Regions from separate parts of the Homo sapiens genome. Here region 2 is linked to region 1. The links come from fine-mapping of genetic effects on gene expression. Tissue or cell type: whole blood. Region 1 holds a variant in brackets; the other region holds the start of a gene. All regions are shown on one strand. Distances are between the middles of the regions.

Region 1 (8,224 bases):
CTATGTGGCACCCCGCCGCCTGCTGCTGACGGGCACACCGCTGCAGAACAAGCTTCCCGAGCTCTGGGCGCTGCTCAACTTCCTGCTGCCCACCATCTTCAAGAGCTGCAGCACCTTCGAGCAGTGGTTTAACGCACCCTTTGCCATGACCGGGGAAAAGGTGGGTTTGCCCAGCTGTGCCCATGCTGACGGTTCCAGGTGCGGCTGGCTTTGCTGGTTGGAACGTGTTGAGCACCAGCTACAGCTGGCTGGGCCTGTGCTGGGTGCCTGGTGAGAGTCTGCATCTGCATGGAGCAGGGGAGCCCTGGAACCCAAGGCTGGGGCAGCCACAAGGGCCCCAGGGGAGCAGGGCAGAGGTCATGGTGGTGAATCTCGGAATGCTCGGGGCGTCTCTGACCCTATGCTCCAGGTGCAGAGTGGATGGTGAGGAAGATGGCCCTGAGGCAGCTGTGGGACCGCAAGCGTGTGGAGAGCACAGCTAGAGGCTGTAGCGTGCTGTAGGCCCCTTTAGGTGCCCTCAGAACTCACCCTCAGGGCAGTGGGAAGGAAACTTGGAAGATTCCAGTTAGCGGGGCCACATGGTCAGGTTCTGTCTTACGTTGTTTTCAAAAAGCTCAGTGGCCAGTGTGTCTCAATGTCTGGGTGGCACCATCAGCCAGACTGTGGCATGGCAGCATCATCATTGATGAGTGGTCCCACACCAGCACTGATCCCTGAGCCTAGAGCTCCTTGCTGTTGGAGGTTGAAACTGTGGGACAGACTGTGTTTCCTGCTGAGGGGTTTAAGTAACCAGATGCTGAAGTGTGGGCAGAACTACAGAGGTTACCTCGAAGTGCCCTGCCCAGCACGGCTGGGCCCACCCCCTTCTTCCCACCTTAGACAGGTCCAGGGCAGCTGGGGCCTTCCTGGCCTCATGCGTGAGTTCCCTGCCCTCTCGGCTGCTGGTCAAGGCAGAGACTCTTCTGATGGCGAAACCGAGGCATTCCCCAAAGCCTCGTGATAAAGGAGTCCCCAATTTTTAGACTCCCGGGACCCCCACACTAAGGGCCAGGATCTGATGCTATAGTTTTGTCACTTTCTGAGCCGAGCAAAAGCTCTGCCAAAGGATTGCCAGGGAAGCAATAGAAGAAAAGTTTTGGCGTCGTCTCATTTTCCTTTAACTTTTTTAATTAAAACATTTTAAAAGTTAATTATTAGTAGAGGAGTAGGCGCCGTGGGAGGTCAGGGTTTCTTTCACCTGGTTCCACCCAGGCTGAATGAGAGTCCCTTGGGGCTCCCGGTGGCAGAGCCCTCCCTGAGAATCACCCGCTATAAGCCCCATGTGGTCAGCCTGGCCCCTGCAGCGCTCCTGGCATGAGCTTGGCGTGGGGTGGGTCTGTGGACACTCCAGTTTGTGTTACTCGTGGAGAAGCAGCATGCCCGCTGCCGGGGGTCTTTCTGGTGAGGCACAGGGAGCAGAGTGCTCTGGGTACTGCGGTTCCATGTCCCAGGAATTACATGGAGGGAACCAGATCCTCACAGTTTCCTAAGGAAGAGGGTGCCCTGCCTGGCTCCCAGAAAGCATAAAGCAGGCTGAAAAGCCACGTGCCAAGGGCAAGATCACCCCAGGGGACCCCGTCCACCCTGTCCCCACATCCGCACCTTCTAGTGAGACCTCTGTCGCCCTCCTTTGGAGGTAACGCTTGCTTCTCCTGTCTTGGGGGCTTCCAGGTGGACCTGAATGAGGAGGAAACCATTCTCATCATCCGGCGTCTCCACAAAGTGCTGCGGCCCTTCTTGCTCCGACGACTCAAGAAGGAAGTCGAGGCCCAGTTGCCCGAAAAGGTGATGGAGTTTTGAGGGGAGCCACCAGTGAAGCAGCCTCACGTGGGGGCTTTCTCCAGGGCTGGGCGTGCTCAGGGCCTCTCCCCACAGTCCCAGGCCTGCCCTGGTCAATCCAGCTTGGGGGTGGCGATGACGCCACTGGGTCTGTAAAGCCCTGTGCTGCTGTTGTAGGGATTGAAAAGCACTCATAGGCTCACATAGCTCACAATAGGTTAGAGCACAAAATCCCACTTCCTGTCAGGGGGCCAGGTGCCTGTGCGGGCTCTCCTGGCCACATCAGGAGGGGCCGTGGGCTTGGGGTTGCCCCCCGGCCCCCCATCATGGCTCTGGGTTTTCAAGGCCTGCTGCAGCCACACCCCTGGGCCCAGTTCCCACAGCAAGACCCATGGACTCGGGGTCCCCGGCTGCAGTTGTCCCTCTTGGCTCTTTGTTTCCTGGCTGGCTGTAGAGAGGCCCCCAGAAGATGGCTGGGGGGCCCTTTCTGGCCCAGTAACCCTCTGGTATCTCTGCCTGGTGCTTCCTCTCATTGCCCAGGTCTCCCCTCTTCTCCCCAGCTGTGAGGGTCTCCTCACCCACACCCCAGTGTGCTCTGGTCAGAGCTCATATGACAGGGCCGAGGGGGTCAGAGCTGGGTTCGGATGGGGGGAGTCAGGCCTCAAGCCACCTTGGGCCCTCGTGAGCATTATGTGTCCCCTGCAGGTGGAGTACGTCATCAAGTGCGACATGTCTGCGCTGCAGCGAGTGCTCTACCGCCACATGCAGGCCAAGGGCGTGCTGCTGACTGATGGCTCCGAGAAGGACAAGAAGGTGGGCCCCAGAGTCCCCCAACTGCATTCCCCACTGGGTGTCCAAGGCCGGCAGCGTGGCAGGCAGAGCAGAGCGTGCTCTGACCATCGGGTCATGATCTGGTCATGATCCCCAGGGCATCTGGCCAGCCCTGGTTATGATGGCTGGTGGCTTGTGTCAGGACACACTGACTCAGCTGCCAGTGGCTTCTCCTTTGCCTATGAAACACTGGCTCCTTCTGCAATTGGCAGCCTGGGCCCAGCACTAACCCCAGCAGGGTTAGAGTGTTCTAGAATGCCCCCCTTCTCTGTTATTAAGTGAAAGGAAGGGAGCGGGCTGTCTCCTGCAGGGGCTGCTCTGAGAATCCCAGGCCCCAGGCCCCACCTGCCTGGCTCTCCTCACCAGCAGTGAAATTATCCTCCCAGGAAATGCACCAGACCCCTTGATTCTGCCCCCAAGGCCTTGACCTCGGCCTGGCTTCCCCGAGACGTTGTGTCTGTGCCCCTTCTCCCCTGAGCTGAGCAGCAGTGTGTTCCCTAGTCCATTCCCAGCCCAGAGCATGCACCCCCCGCCCCGCCCCCACCTCCTTCCTCATCCTGGAGCCCAGGGAGCCCTGAGTCATGGCTCACCCGGCTGAGGCCCTCTTGCCCAGCTGAGACCCTCTAGGGACCCCCACAGTAACAGTGCCCAGAACAAAGCTGGCATCACAAAGCATCGGGGACTCTGCCTCAGCCCTTTGCCAGTCTTGTTTCCGTCCCGTCCTGCTGGCCCTGTCCCTGCCATCTGCCCTCTGCTGTGCCAGGCAGTCATTTGTTTCCCAGGGCTTGTTGGGGGCCTCCGGGCCTCCAGCCTGCCATCTCCTCACTCCCAATTGCTGTGCCAAAAGCCACTCTTCCCCACTAGAGCGTCCCCATGGCCCTTCTCCCAACACCCACCCATCCACCAAGCCCACCCCACCCCAGGAGGGCAAGACCCCATTTGGGTCCCTCTCATCTGCCTTCCAGGGCAAAGGCGGCACCAAGACCCTGATGAACACCATCATGCAGCTGCGGAAGATCTGCAACCACCCCTACATGTTCCAGCACATCGAGGTGAGCCCGCCGCGGCTGGGACGGCTCAGGCCCTGCTGTCTGCTGAGCTCCTAGGCAGAGCTGGCTTCTCCTCGACAGCTCTTTAAAAACAGACTCGAATATTTTCATTAGGTAATGCC[T/C]GTACATCTGTCTCTCATTTGGTCTTCGCTTCACCAGTGCTTACGGGAAGAATCCCAGCAGTTAGGGCGCAACGTGCGATAGGAATATAGGGCCCTGAAAGCTTGCCCTCAGAGAGCAGGAGCGTTTGGAGACTTCTCTGGGGATGTGTCCCCCCACAGTGGGGTCCTGCTGCGTCTCTTTGGCTCACTGGCTTTTCTCACGTTGCGGGGCGTCAAGAGTCACCACCGTCTTCAGTGAAGTGTGGGGGAGTCAGAACCCTTTTTGGTCATGGTGGCTTTGAGAATCTGGGTTCTTAGAAGCATGCATATGTTCGTGTTTCTTGGTGTAAAGTGTCAGGGTCGTTGGAGACCGCCTGCTGCCCCGAGAGCCCCTGGGGCTGTCTCAGCACCCTGAGCGTGGCTGTGGCCCCATGACGTCCTCGTGCATTCAGGGTGTGAAGAGTGCTGTATGGGATGTCCTTTCCTTCGTTGGAGGAGTGTGAGGGAAAGGATGTCAGTGGACTAAGAAAGATGGTTTTGGCATCTGTGTCTGGTCTCAGAGCCGCCGTGGGCCCGTGCCGAGCACACAGTGTGGGGGCTTTGTCCTCTGAGCACGAGCGGTGTGTGCGGACCGCAGCGGGGCCCGGTGGCCTGCTCCTGCCTGTCACTGACCCCTCTCTCCTTGCCTTGCAGGAGTCCTTTTCCGAGCACTTGGGGTTCACTGGCGGCATTGTCCAAGGGTGAGAAGCTTCCCAACTGGATGGGGTGGGCAGGTGGTCCACCCAGAGGTTTTCTGTCGTTTTGTTGGCTTTATTGCTGCTGTTATGTTGTCCAATTTCAAAGGCAGAAAATTAGAAAATACAGAAGAATCCAAAGCAAATAATACAAATCTTTTTTTTTTTTTTTTTTTGAGGTGGAGTTTTGCTCTTGTTGCCCAGGCTGGAGTGCAGTGACACAATCTCGGCTCACTGCAACCTCTGCCTCCTGGGTTCAAATGATTCTCCTGCCTCAGCCTCCCGAGTAGCTGGGATTACCGGCACCTGCCACCACCCAGCTAATTTTTTGTATTTTTAGTAGAGATGGGGTTTCACCATGTTGACCAGGCTGATCTTGAACTCCTGACCTCAAGTGATCCACCCGCCTTGGCCTCCCAAAGTGCTGGAATTACAGGTGTGAGCCACCGCGCCCGGCCCCATTATACAAATCTTTAGTGCTTGGAGAGCTGACCACTATTAACCCCAAGAGACAGGATTCCTGAGGCAGACCTGGCTTACAGATCCCACTCTGCCGCCTCCAAGCTCTGTGACTCTAGACAGCTTTCTTAACCTCTCTGAGCCTAAACTCTGCTCACTAGTACAGAGGCACTCTTTACATCATGTGGGTGTTTTCTATAGCACCCTTTGTAAGGGGCAGCCCAGACTCCTTTAAGCCCCTAATGGATGTGGATGCTGTGTCTAGATTTTCACCATTGCAAAGAACCTTGCTAAAAGCATTCTTCCAGCTAAAGCCTCCATTCAATTCCCCTGGGGTAGTAAGCCATTTGCAAGAAGAGAGGCGCCTAATGAAAACATCACAAATTCTTTTTGATGTGTTTTTTTATACTGAGTTGTGGAACAGGGTCCTGTACACCTGGCTTCAAGGCTGGGAGGCCTGGCTTGGACATGTGGTCAGCCATATCACGTCGTCCCCCTGCCAGCCTCAGTGTCCACATCTACAACACTTGGGGTTTGGCTGGAGAGAACATGAGAAGCCGAGGTGGCCCTTCCTTCTGGGTCTAGCAGAGCATGGGTGTCTCCAGTGTGGCATTTGCTCCTGGGGCTTCTTTATCGGGCAAGGGGACAAGGTCTGGCTTCCCGGAGCATCCCTGTTCCAGCCCCGTGTTGTGCCGGCCATGTGACTCACAGCTCCTCTCATTTTCATGAGTGTCTGGGTTTGACGAGAAATACATGTGCCACCCTGGTGATACGCCTCCCCAGCGAGGGTGGCCGGGCTTATTTCAGTTGGGGGAAATGGCTTTGCTGAAGCTTTGGGTGGGTGACGTCTGCTTAGGATGCATGTCTGTGCCCTTGAACCCGGCGCCTGGCCTGGAGGCGGGCGATGCACCTCCTGCCTTACCTGCCTGCAGGGTTCCAGGTTTAACATCCTGCGCCTTCTCTCCTGCCTCCTCCACACTCCAGGCTGGACCTGTACCGAGCCTCGGGTAAATTTGAGCTTCTTGATAGAATTCTTCCCAAACTCCGAGCAACCAACCACAAAGTGCTGCTGTTCTGCCAAATGACCTCCCTCATGACCATCATGGAAGATTACTTTGCGTATCGCGGCTTTAAATACCTCAGGCTTGATGGTGAGTATGAGCCAGTGAGGCGTTTCTTACAGGGTTTTGTTGTTGTGGCTGCCACAGAAGCTCCTCACTGGCATTCCCTCCTGTGAGGCAGGGTGAGGCCCAGGCGCTCTGGGTCCAGTGGCCAGAGTGGGCCTAGCCACAGGCTGAGCATCTTGGGCACTCGGCACTGGGACAGGCCGTGGATTGGACGCCGGGTGTCCTGACTCCTAGGCTGACAGTCTTTCCACGACAATGCTGGGCGCACTGGGGAAGGGGTGCCCTGTGCACTTTTAGCTGGAAGTGACAGAATTCCATACCATGTGGACACAGGAAAGAAAGCACCAATAGGCTTACATAGCTCTAACCCCAGGAGGTTAAACATCCTTCAGGCACAGCTGGATCCAGGCATGCAGGTGATATTGGAGAGACTTTTCTCCAGCTCTTTGCTCTGCCTTCTTCCATCTTGGCTTCCTTTCCACCTGCTCAGTGTCCCCAACAAAGGCAGGTCCCAGGCTGGCTCTCATTTAGCTGCTGTGAGCCGCATGCCCATCCCTGGGCCATTCGTAGCAGCCCAGTGACTGCCACCTTGCCACAGGTCAGGCCTGGACCTGGAATCAGACTCTGTGGTGAGCACGGAGGGAGGGAAGCAAGCACTGCCAGGCAGGAGCAGCAGCTGCCGTAGAGAGGCTCTCAGCCCAACCCCCTGCCCTGCGGTCCCTGATGGGAAAGGTCACCGCCTGTGTTTCTGCGCCTGCCTGCCCCAGCACACGGGAGCTCAGGGAGGAGAGGCTGTGAGATGCCGACAGGGCACGTGAGACATGTCTGTCAGTCCCAGTGGGTCAGGGAGCCCTGGAGTGAGTTCTTCGTGGGAGTTACTAGAACTGGGCTTACGAGAAACACGAGCATGAGCTGCTGAGACAGACACGGCTCAGCCAGTTTGTTGTTCCCTACACGACCTCCCAGAGCCTTTGTTGAAGCTCCTGTGCAAGGTCTGTCTCACAGCAGGACACCCCAGACCTCCATACCCCTTGTCCCGTTGATCACTTGGACCTGTGTTTGCTGGGCCAACCTGCCCAGGTGCCACCCGGAGTGTGCCCTGTGTGTCCCTCCAAACTGCAGGTCCTCCCCGGGGTTCTGTCCAGGACCACTCTACAGACACGAGTCTGTTGCAGGGGTCTCCCCGGCTTGCCTTCTTCCTTGGGGGCTTCCCACTTTCAGCTTTGAGGCTGAAAACCAAAATCCTTCAGGGTCCTCATGGCCGGGCCACCCCCCACCCTTTCCTCTCCTACGGTCTCTCCAGCGGCTTCTCCCGTCCTCGAGAGGGCCAAGGCTTCCTGAGGGCCATCCCGTCTGTGTCGTGTCCCTGACTCCCCCAGGAGAGAGCCTGGTTCCCACCCATCCCAGTGCCCTTCTGCCTACTCCATAAGGACAAGGACTTTGGTCAGTTGAACTACAGATGTGTCCTCTGCATGTGATGTGGTCATGGCCACAGGGCCAGAGAATCCATTGCGAGTAGAGGAAGGGTAGGAGCTCAGTGAAGTCTCCTGAGACTGCATCTCCCATGGGTGGGCTGGCATCTGGGAGCCGGGTGGCCCCTCACCTCAGCCCCTCCTCCGAGCTGGAGTAGCAGGGGCACATCTGGTGCCTGAGAGAGGGTGGGACGGCAGGTGGATGGCCAGGCTACTGTGGGCTTCTGCACCGTGCCTGGGCATGTGTAGGCTGGTGGCAGGAAATGGCCAGTTTTTATTTCTTCTTTTTTTTGAGACGGAGTTTCACTCTTGTTGCCCAGGCTGGAGTGCAGTGGCATGATCTCAGCTCACTGCAACCTCCGCCGCCTGGATTCAAGCGATTCTCCTGCCTCATCCTCCCTGGTATCTGGGATTACAGGCGCCCGCCACTACGCCCAGCTAATTTTCTTGTATTTTTAGTAGAGACGGGGTTTCACCATGTTGGCCAGGCTGGTCTCGAACTCCTGTCCTCAGGCGATCCACCCACCTCAGCCTCCCAAAGTGTTGGGATTACAGGCATGAGTCACCGCGCCCGGCCTGCCAGTTTTTATTTCATCACCAAAATGACTTCAGTGTTCAGGGGCACCTCTGTCC
Region 2 (8,000 bases), 64 kb before region 1:
GGTCAGGCTAGTCCTGAACTCCTGACCTCAGGTGATCCGCCTGCCTCGGCCTCCCAAGTGCTGGGATTACAGGCGTGAGGCACCGCGCCTGGCCCGGCCTGTTTTTCTTTACACTATTGCATATTAGTGTGATTAGCATAAAAGACAATTAGAGAACAGTCATACCATCCACTCCATGGGCAGCAACCCTGCCTCCTCCATGCATTGCTGCAGGGTATTCCTAGCTCAATGCTTAGCATTTGGAGAGAGCATAAGAAATACTATTTGGCCGGGCGCCTTGGCTCACGCCTGTAATCCCAGCACTTTGGGAGGCTGAGGTGGGAGGATCACCTGAGCCCAGGAGTTTGAAACCAGCCTGGACGACATAGTGTGACTGTCTCTACAAAAAATTTTAAGAAAATTAGCTGAGTGTGGTGTCCCACCCTTGTAGTCCAAGCTACTCGGGAGGCTGAGGCAGGAGGATCGCTTGAGCCCAGGAGGTCGAGGCTACAGTGAGTACTGATCGTGCCACCGCAGTCCAGGCTGGATGACCCAGCAAGCCTGTGTCTCAAAAACAAAAACAAAAAAACAAAAAAATAACTACTTGAATGAATGAGGAATCGAGTTCAGATCCCACTTCTACTTGCTCACTTACTGTGCACTATTCAATAACACTAGCTGAGGATCAGAGAGCTAGCAGGTGGGCTACCTGCTGTCATGATTCCTCATAACCAAACAGTGGAAGTGGGAGCCATTATTGTTTCTGGTGGGTTTTTTTTGTTTTGTCTTGTTTTGTTTTTGAGACGGAATCTCCCTCTGTCACCAGGCTGGAGTATAGTGGCACGCTCGACTCACTGCAACCTCCGCCTCCTGGGTTCATGCAATTCTGCCTCAGCCTCCTGAGTAGCTGGCACTACAGGCACGCGCCACCACAGCCAGCTAATTTTTGTATTTTTAGTAGAGATGGTGTTTCACCACATTGGCCAGGATGGTCTCAATCTCTTGACCTCATGATCCACCTGCCTTGGCCTCCCAAAGTGTTGGGATTACAGACGTGAGCCACTGGGCCCAGCATTTTTTTTTTTTTTTTTTTTTTTTGAGATGGAGTTTTACTCTCGTCACCCAGGCTGGAGCGCAATGACATGATCTTGGCTCACTGTAACCTCCACCTCCTGGGTTCAAGAAATTCTCCTGCCTCAGCCTGCCGAGTAGCTGTGATTACAGGCACCTGCCACTATGCCTGGCTAATTAATTTTTTTGTATTTTTAGTAGAAACGGGGTTTCACCATGTTGGCCAGGCTGGTCTCGAACTCCTTACCTCAGGTCATCTGCCCACCTTGGCTTCCGAAAGTGCTGGGATTACAGATGTCAGCCACCGCACCCAGCCTTATTGTTTGTTTCACAGGTGAAGAAAGTGAGGTGTAGATGCTCTGGTAAACCTGCCTGGTATTACCCATGCATCACCCAGGTAGTAGAAATGGAGTCGTGTTTTAAACCCAGGTCCTTCTGGGGCCTGGCTTGGTGGCTCATGCCTGTAATCCCAGTGCACTGGGAGGCTGAGCCAGGAGGACTGCTTGAGCCCAGTAGTTTGAGACCAGCTTGGGTAACACAGCAGACCTCAGCTCTACAGAACATAACAGACAAAAAAAAAAAAAAAAAAAAAAAGCTGGTGGTGGTGGCATGTACCTGTAGTCACAGCTATTTGGGAGGCTGAGGTGGATCCCTTGAGTCCAGGAGTTTGAGGCTGCACTGAGCTGTGGTTACACCATTGCACTCCAGCCTGGGTTACAGAGCAAGACCCTGTCTCTAATAAAACAAACAATTAAACAAAAACCCACCCAGGTGAGGTGGCTCACGCCTGTAATCCCAACACTTTGGGAGGCTGAGGTGGGCGGATCACTTGAGGTCAGGAGTTAAAAACCAGCCTGGCCAACATGGTGAAACTCTGTCTCAACTAAAAATACAAAAATTAGCCGGGCGTGGTGGCGGACGCCTGTAGTCCCAGTTACTCGGGAGGCTGAGGCAGGAGAATCGCTTGAATCTGGGAGGCAGAAGTTGCAGTGAGCTGAGATCGTGCCACCTCACTCCAGCCTGGGCAATGGAGTAAGACTCCGTCTCAAAACAAACAAACAAACAAACAAACAAACAAACAAACACACAAAAAAGAAAACACACAGAAGAGGCCAAGAGGCTCAGGGCCTTCACTCTCGGAGGAAGGTTTCTCTCTTTCACCACCAGCCTGTATGCATTCAAACGTGTTCTTTGCAACGACGACTTCCGTGGCTGCCCTATTTAAAATGTCCATGATCCTCCCAGTGTTCACCTCACACTGTACTATTTATTTTTTTTGAGACGGAATTTCACTCTTGTTGCCCAGGCTGGAGTGCAATAGTACGATCTCGGCTCACTACAATCTCCACCTCCTGGGCTCAAGCGATTCTCCTGCCTCAGCCTCCCGAGTAGCTGTGACTACAGGCGTGTGCCACCACGCCCGGCTAATTTTTTGTATTTTTAGTAAAGACGGGGTTTCACCGTGTTAGCCAGGATAGTCTCATCTCCTGACCTCATGATCCACCAGCCTAGGCCTCCCTAAGTGCTGGGATTACAGGCATGAGCTACCGCGCCCGGCTAATTTTTGTATTTTTAATAGAGACGGGTTTCACCATGGTGGTCAGGCTCGTTTCTAACTCCCGACCTCAGGTGATCCGGCCGCCTCGGCCTCCCAAAGTGCTGGATTACAGGCGTGAGCCACCAAGTCCGGCCTCTCATACTGCACTATTTTGCTTATTAATCTTGCTTCTTGTCCTCCTTCCCCACTAGACCGAGGGCTCCACGGCGGCTGGGACACAGTAGCAGATCAATAAATATTTGCTAAGCTAATTAATGGCACTTGGGAAGTTTTGCAGAGAAGGCGGCCACGGTCGGGCCCCGCCTTGCCTCCCCAAATAGGCCTCGCCGCCCCAGGTCAGGGATCAAAGCGGTTCCCAGGCGCGCCCTTGGCCCGCGGGAAACCACTGCCCGGTCTTGGTCCAGGCGGCCCGTCCTACGGTCCAGGGTTCCTATTTCCGAGCCTCAGGGACCTCCTTTCCCCACGGACCCCACGGCCACCGGGATCCCATTCTCCAGTTGCCCCATCGTCACCGCGGCCGCCGCCACCGCCGCCGCAGTGGCGTCCGCTCTGCGCATGCTCCGGGGCGTCAAGACGCGAGGCGTGCAGAAGGCGAAGCGTGCGCAGGCGCGGGGCCATCGCGGCCCGAGTGGGGCGGTGCATCGGACGCGCGTGCTTCCTCCGGGCCACGCCCACCCCCGTCCGCCCAGGGACGGGCGCGCACGCGCGCCGGGAGCGGAAGGGCGGGCTGGCGCGCGCACGAGGCCGGGCAGGCGGCGGAAGCTGGAGAGGCCGCCGCGGTGCTGAGGGGGAGGGGAGCCGGCGAGCGCGCGCGCAGCGGGGGCGCGGGTGGCGCGCGTGTGTGTGAAGGGGGGGCGGTGGCCGAGGCGGGCGGGCGCGCGCGCGAGGCTTCCCCTCGTTTGGCGGCGGCGGCGGCTTCTTTGTTTCGTGAAGAGAAGCGAGACGCCCATTCTGCCCCCGGCCCCGCGCGGAGGGGCGGGGGAGGCGCCGGGAAGTCGACGGCGCCGGCGGCTCCTGGTAAGGAACGCGGGCCGCGGGGGCAGCGCGGCGCGGGGCCGGGGAGGGCGGTTTGAATGGAGCCGGGGCGCCGAGGGGGGAGGGGGCTGCCGGCGCGCCCTGTGCGGGGCCGGGGTACGGCGGCGCCCGAGGGTCAAGAAGCCCAGCCGGCAGCCGCGCGCGTGGGGAAGGCCACAGTGTCGCGAGGCCGTGGCAGCGGCGGCCCCCGCGGAGCGGCGGGGTGGGTGGGGGGCCCGGGCCGCGTGGAGGCCGCGCGATCCTCTCCGCGCGCGCTCTCGCCGGGGTCGCCGGACAAAGCTCGCCCCCCTCGCCCGGCACCCCTACAGTCGCCCTCCCAATTACAGCGGCTGCAACAATAGGCAGGCGTTGGGGCTTTTCTGGCTGCGTGGTAACGGGTCCGACCCGAATGTTGCGTTTTTGGCGAAGCTGCGATCGGGGCTCAGCCAAACCTCCAGATATGTCCGGCGTCGGCCGGACACGGGCATTAGCGGTCCCCTTGGGCTAGCCGACCTCAAATTGTCTTAAAAACGTGTCATTCCAGATTTTCAAGGAAAGGTAAAGGACTCCCCCGATGCCTTGCAGTTAGTGACTTCAAAATGTTTGCCCGAATTGGGGTTGGGGATGGGGTCGGCGGCAAGTAGGGGAGCACGGAGGAAATCCTTTGCTGTGTAAAAGCATTGCTTTTCTTTTGCATCCTTTTTTCTCCTTCCCAATTGGTTTTTCAGATTAAGGCTTTTATTTTCAACGTGGACCTTTTGGGCGAGTGTTTTGTCCCGATCTTGAAGATACCAGTCTTGATTTTTTTTTTTTTTTTTTTTGGTCAGTGACTCCTTGGGGAAAGTAGCAAGGGAATAAGCGGAAAAGCCGCTTCGCAGGAATTTGAAGCAAGTTTTCAGTTTGGATTGATAGGCTGCATTCAAGCTTGATTCCTGGTGCTGTCAGTCACTTAGCACACTGTCACTTTAGGGAAGTGGCTTAACCTCTCTGAACCTCTTAGTTTTCCTCCTTTGTGAAAGCTCCTTTGTGAAAGGGGGTAATCTCCCAAATGGAATTGGTGAAAGCCTGTAAAATGGTTCCTCGCAAGCGGGAAGCACTATTGTAATTGTCTGGTCCAATCTCCCTCATTGTTCAGCAGATAACTTCTTGAGGCCCTACTAAGTGTTGGATGGTCGGGGGTTGGATCCTGGAGCCTCTGCAGTCTTGGAGGGGAGCGGGTGGTAAATGTGGGAACAAACTCTCTTGGCCTATCGTTTATTGCTCTGAACCTGCACTGTGAGAGGGACACAGCGGACAGGCAGGGGATCGGTGGTAGCCAGAGATCACGGGGGCTGCTTGGAAGAGGGGGCCTCAAAATCAGGGAGGGTGTGTAGGATTGTATTTTGTTTTTGAGGCAGAGTCTTGCCTGTCGCCCAGGCTGGAGTTCAGAGTCCCAATCTCCGCTCACTGTAACCTCCGCCTCCTGGGTTCAAGCGATTCTCCTGCCTCAGCCTCCTGAGTAGCTGGGACTACAGGCGCCCGCCACCACGCCTGGCTAATTTTTGTATTTTTAGTAGATATGGGGTTTTACCATGTTGGCCAGGCTGGTCTCAAACTCCTGACTTAAGGTGATCCACCCACCTCGGCCTCCCAAAGTGCTAGGACTACATGTGTGAGCCACTGCGCCAGGATTGTATTTTGACTTTCCCTGGCCACCTCGGACTAGCCATTGTTCCCCTCAGCTACATTCATACATCAACTTGGTCCTTTCCGGTGTAGCTGTCACCCCCAGCACCGTGAGAGCTGGGGTTGTGTCTGCCTGGCTGGCCCCACAGTACCCTGGGCCTGACACATAGTAGGTCTTTAGCGAACTTATGTGGATTGAATGAGGGGGTCCTGTGGAAGATCGCGTGACCATCTGTGTAAAAGGCTTGGTGCAGGGCCAGGTGCAGTGGCTCATACCTGAAATCCCAGCACTTGGGGAGGCTGAGGCGGGAAAATTGCTTGAACCCGGGAGTTTGAGACTAACCTGGGCAACATAGTGAGACCTCATCTCTACAAAAAATACAAAAATTAGCCGAGTGTGGTGGCATGCACCGGTGGTCCCAACTACTCAGGAGGCTGAGGTAGGAGGACTGCTTGAGCCAGAGAGGTGGAGGCTGCAGTGAGCCATTCTTGTGCCCCTGCATTCCAGCCTGTGCACCAGAGTAAGACTGTCTCAAAAAAAAAAAAAAAAAAAAAGAAAAAGAAAGCTTGGTGCAGGACTGGGGGTGGATTGTAAGGGATACAGGTTAGTTGTTTGAACAGTTTTTGCACTTTCCAAGCCATTGTTTCCTGAACCTCAGTTGTCCTCATCTCCCCTACAAAGTGTGGGGTGGTGGTTAGCGTGGGGTGGTGGTAAGGAGTACTCATTCTGGAATCAGACCTCCTGAATTCACACCCAGCTCTCTAAATCGTAGCTTAACCTCAAGCGAGGCGCTTAGCAGTAGGGCCCCCCACTTGTGAAACAGGTAGGACGAGGATGCCCGAAACTTCACAGGCTTCTTGTGAGGGTTGAATGAGGTCACATGGGAAGCCGCTAACACACTGCTGCACCTGATGCGTAGTGAACACTTGATTTTTTTTTTTTTTTTGAGACGGAGTCTCGCTCTGTCATCCGGGCTGGAGTGCAATGCCCCTGTAGTCCCAAGCTCCTTGAGAGGCTGGGGCAGGAGGTACAGGCTGCAGTGGACCATGATTGAGCCACTGCACTCCAGCCTGGGTGACGAAGCGAGACCCTGTCTAAAAAAAGGAATAAAAATTAATTCATGCATAGTTAGGAAAGTAATAAATGGTTTTGCATGGGCCACCTAAAATCATTTTGTGTCCAGCCCTTTAGGAGACGTAAATGTTGATCGTGCAGGCTTTTGAGCAGGGGAGGTGATGTCATCAGAATTGTGATATAGGGCAGTGCAGTGGTCTCTAAACTTCTTGTCAGTGAGGAGCATTCCAACATATGTGTATTTATTTACAATTTATTTGTGTACCTTTGCTTCTCCTTGGGAACCCTCAAAACACCAGGAGATAACCTTAGACCATTCCATGTTTTGGCTGTTTGTGGGAGGTGGGAGCATGGGAGGGACTAGGGTTTTGGGCAGATGTCTGGTGGAACTTTCTTTCTTTCTTTCTTTTTTTTTTGAGACGGAATCTTACTCTTGTTGCCCAGGCTGGAGTGCAATGGCACGATCTCGTCTCACTGCAACCTCTGCCTCCCGGGTTCAAGCGATTCTTCTGACTCAGCCTCCTGAGTAGCTGGGATCACAGGTGTGCACCACCACACCTGGCTAAGTTTTGTATTTTTAGTAGAGATGGGATTTCATCATGTTGGCCAAGCTGGTCTTGAACTCCTGACCTCAACTGATCCACCCACCTTGGCCCTTGGCCTCCCAAAGTACTGGGATTACAAGTATGAGCCACCGCGCCCGGCCTCTTTTTTTTTTTTTCTTATGAGACAGAGTCATTCTGTCGCCCAGGCTGGAGTGCAGTGGTGCGATCTTGACTCACTGCAACCTCCGCCTCCTGGTCTCAAGCGATTCTCATGCCTCAGCCTCTGGAGTGGATGGGACTAAGGACGTGCACCACCATGCCCAGCTAATTTTTGTATTTTAGTAGAGACCGGGTTTCACCATGTTGGCCAGAACTCCTGGTCTCGAACTCCTGGCCTCCTGTAATCTGCCCACCTCGGCCTCCCAAAGTGTTGGGATTATAGGCGTGAGCCACCGTGCCCAGCCAGTCTGGTGGAACTTTCTATCAGTAAGGAAACTGAGGCCTAGGGTTATTTTCTTTCCACAAGGGTTGTCAAGTCAACCACCTGGGTTTGACTCCTGGTTTTGTCTTTCCATCCCTCGGTCATCAAGGCTGCCATGGCACAGAAGGACCCATTCATGGTGCCTGTAGACAGAACACAATGTGAATAGTGCCCCCTGGAGTTGTGCAAGAAATGACCCAGCCACTCTTCCCCATTTATGTGGCGAACAAGCATGCATTGAGCGCCTGCCATGTGCCAGGCACTGCTGGGGAGCTGGGGATTCCATGGGGAACAGGCAGACAAGGGTCCTGTTCTTAGTAGCTCACACCCCACTCTTGACTTGCAAAGGGGGACAGTACTAGTACCCAGCTTGTAGGATTGCTGCAAGAGCTGAACAACCAGTGACAAATGCGAAGTGCTTAGAATGGTGCCTGGCACATAGTGCTAAACAGTTGTTAGTGCTCATCATTTATTAGGATTCCTGCAACAGCCTGGTGGGATGACACAGATAATATACTTTTTCCTCTAGTCATAAGTTCTGTATGTTTCAAAGTGGTAGCAAAGGAGTCAGCTCCTCCATTTTGTCCTTAATGGCTGCACATTGTTTAACAG

The links. PIP is the estimated chance that this variant, and not a neighbour inherited with it, causes the effect.
Region 2: it holds the start of SMARCA4, and the variant in region 1 is fine-mapped to the expression of SMARCA4 in whole blood (TOPMed, PIP above 0.99). The same link has a PIP of 0.9 or more in lung.

What each region holds. Positions count from the first base shown.
Region 1 is chr19:11,021,808-11,030,031 of GRCh38, forward strand. SMARCA4 (SWI/SNF related BAF chromatin remodeling complex subunit ATPase 4) reads left to right here. Exons shown (of 35, transcript NM_003072.5): 19 at 1-160; 20 at 1,711-1,824; 21 at 2,524-2,631; 22 at 3,615-3,701; 23 at 4,493-4,539; 24 at 5,977-6,143. Among named protein-coding and RNA genes, the nearest start is that of LDLR, 64 kb to the right of the region's middle. RefSeq lists an enhancer at 6,337-6,837. The variant T/C (reference allele first, on the strand shown) is at 3,821.
Region 2 is chr19:10,957,550-10,965,549 of GRCh38, forward strand. SMARCA4 (SWI/SNF related BAF chromatin remodeling complex subunit ATPase 4) reads left to right here and starts at 3,481. Exons shown (of 35, transcript NM_003072.5): 1 at 3,481-3,625. RefSeq lists silencers at 3,209-3,628, 3,679-3,738, 3,789-3,848 and an enhancer at 6,366-6,495.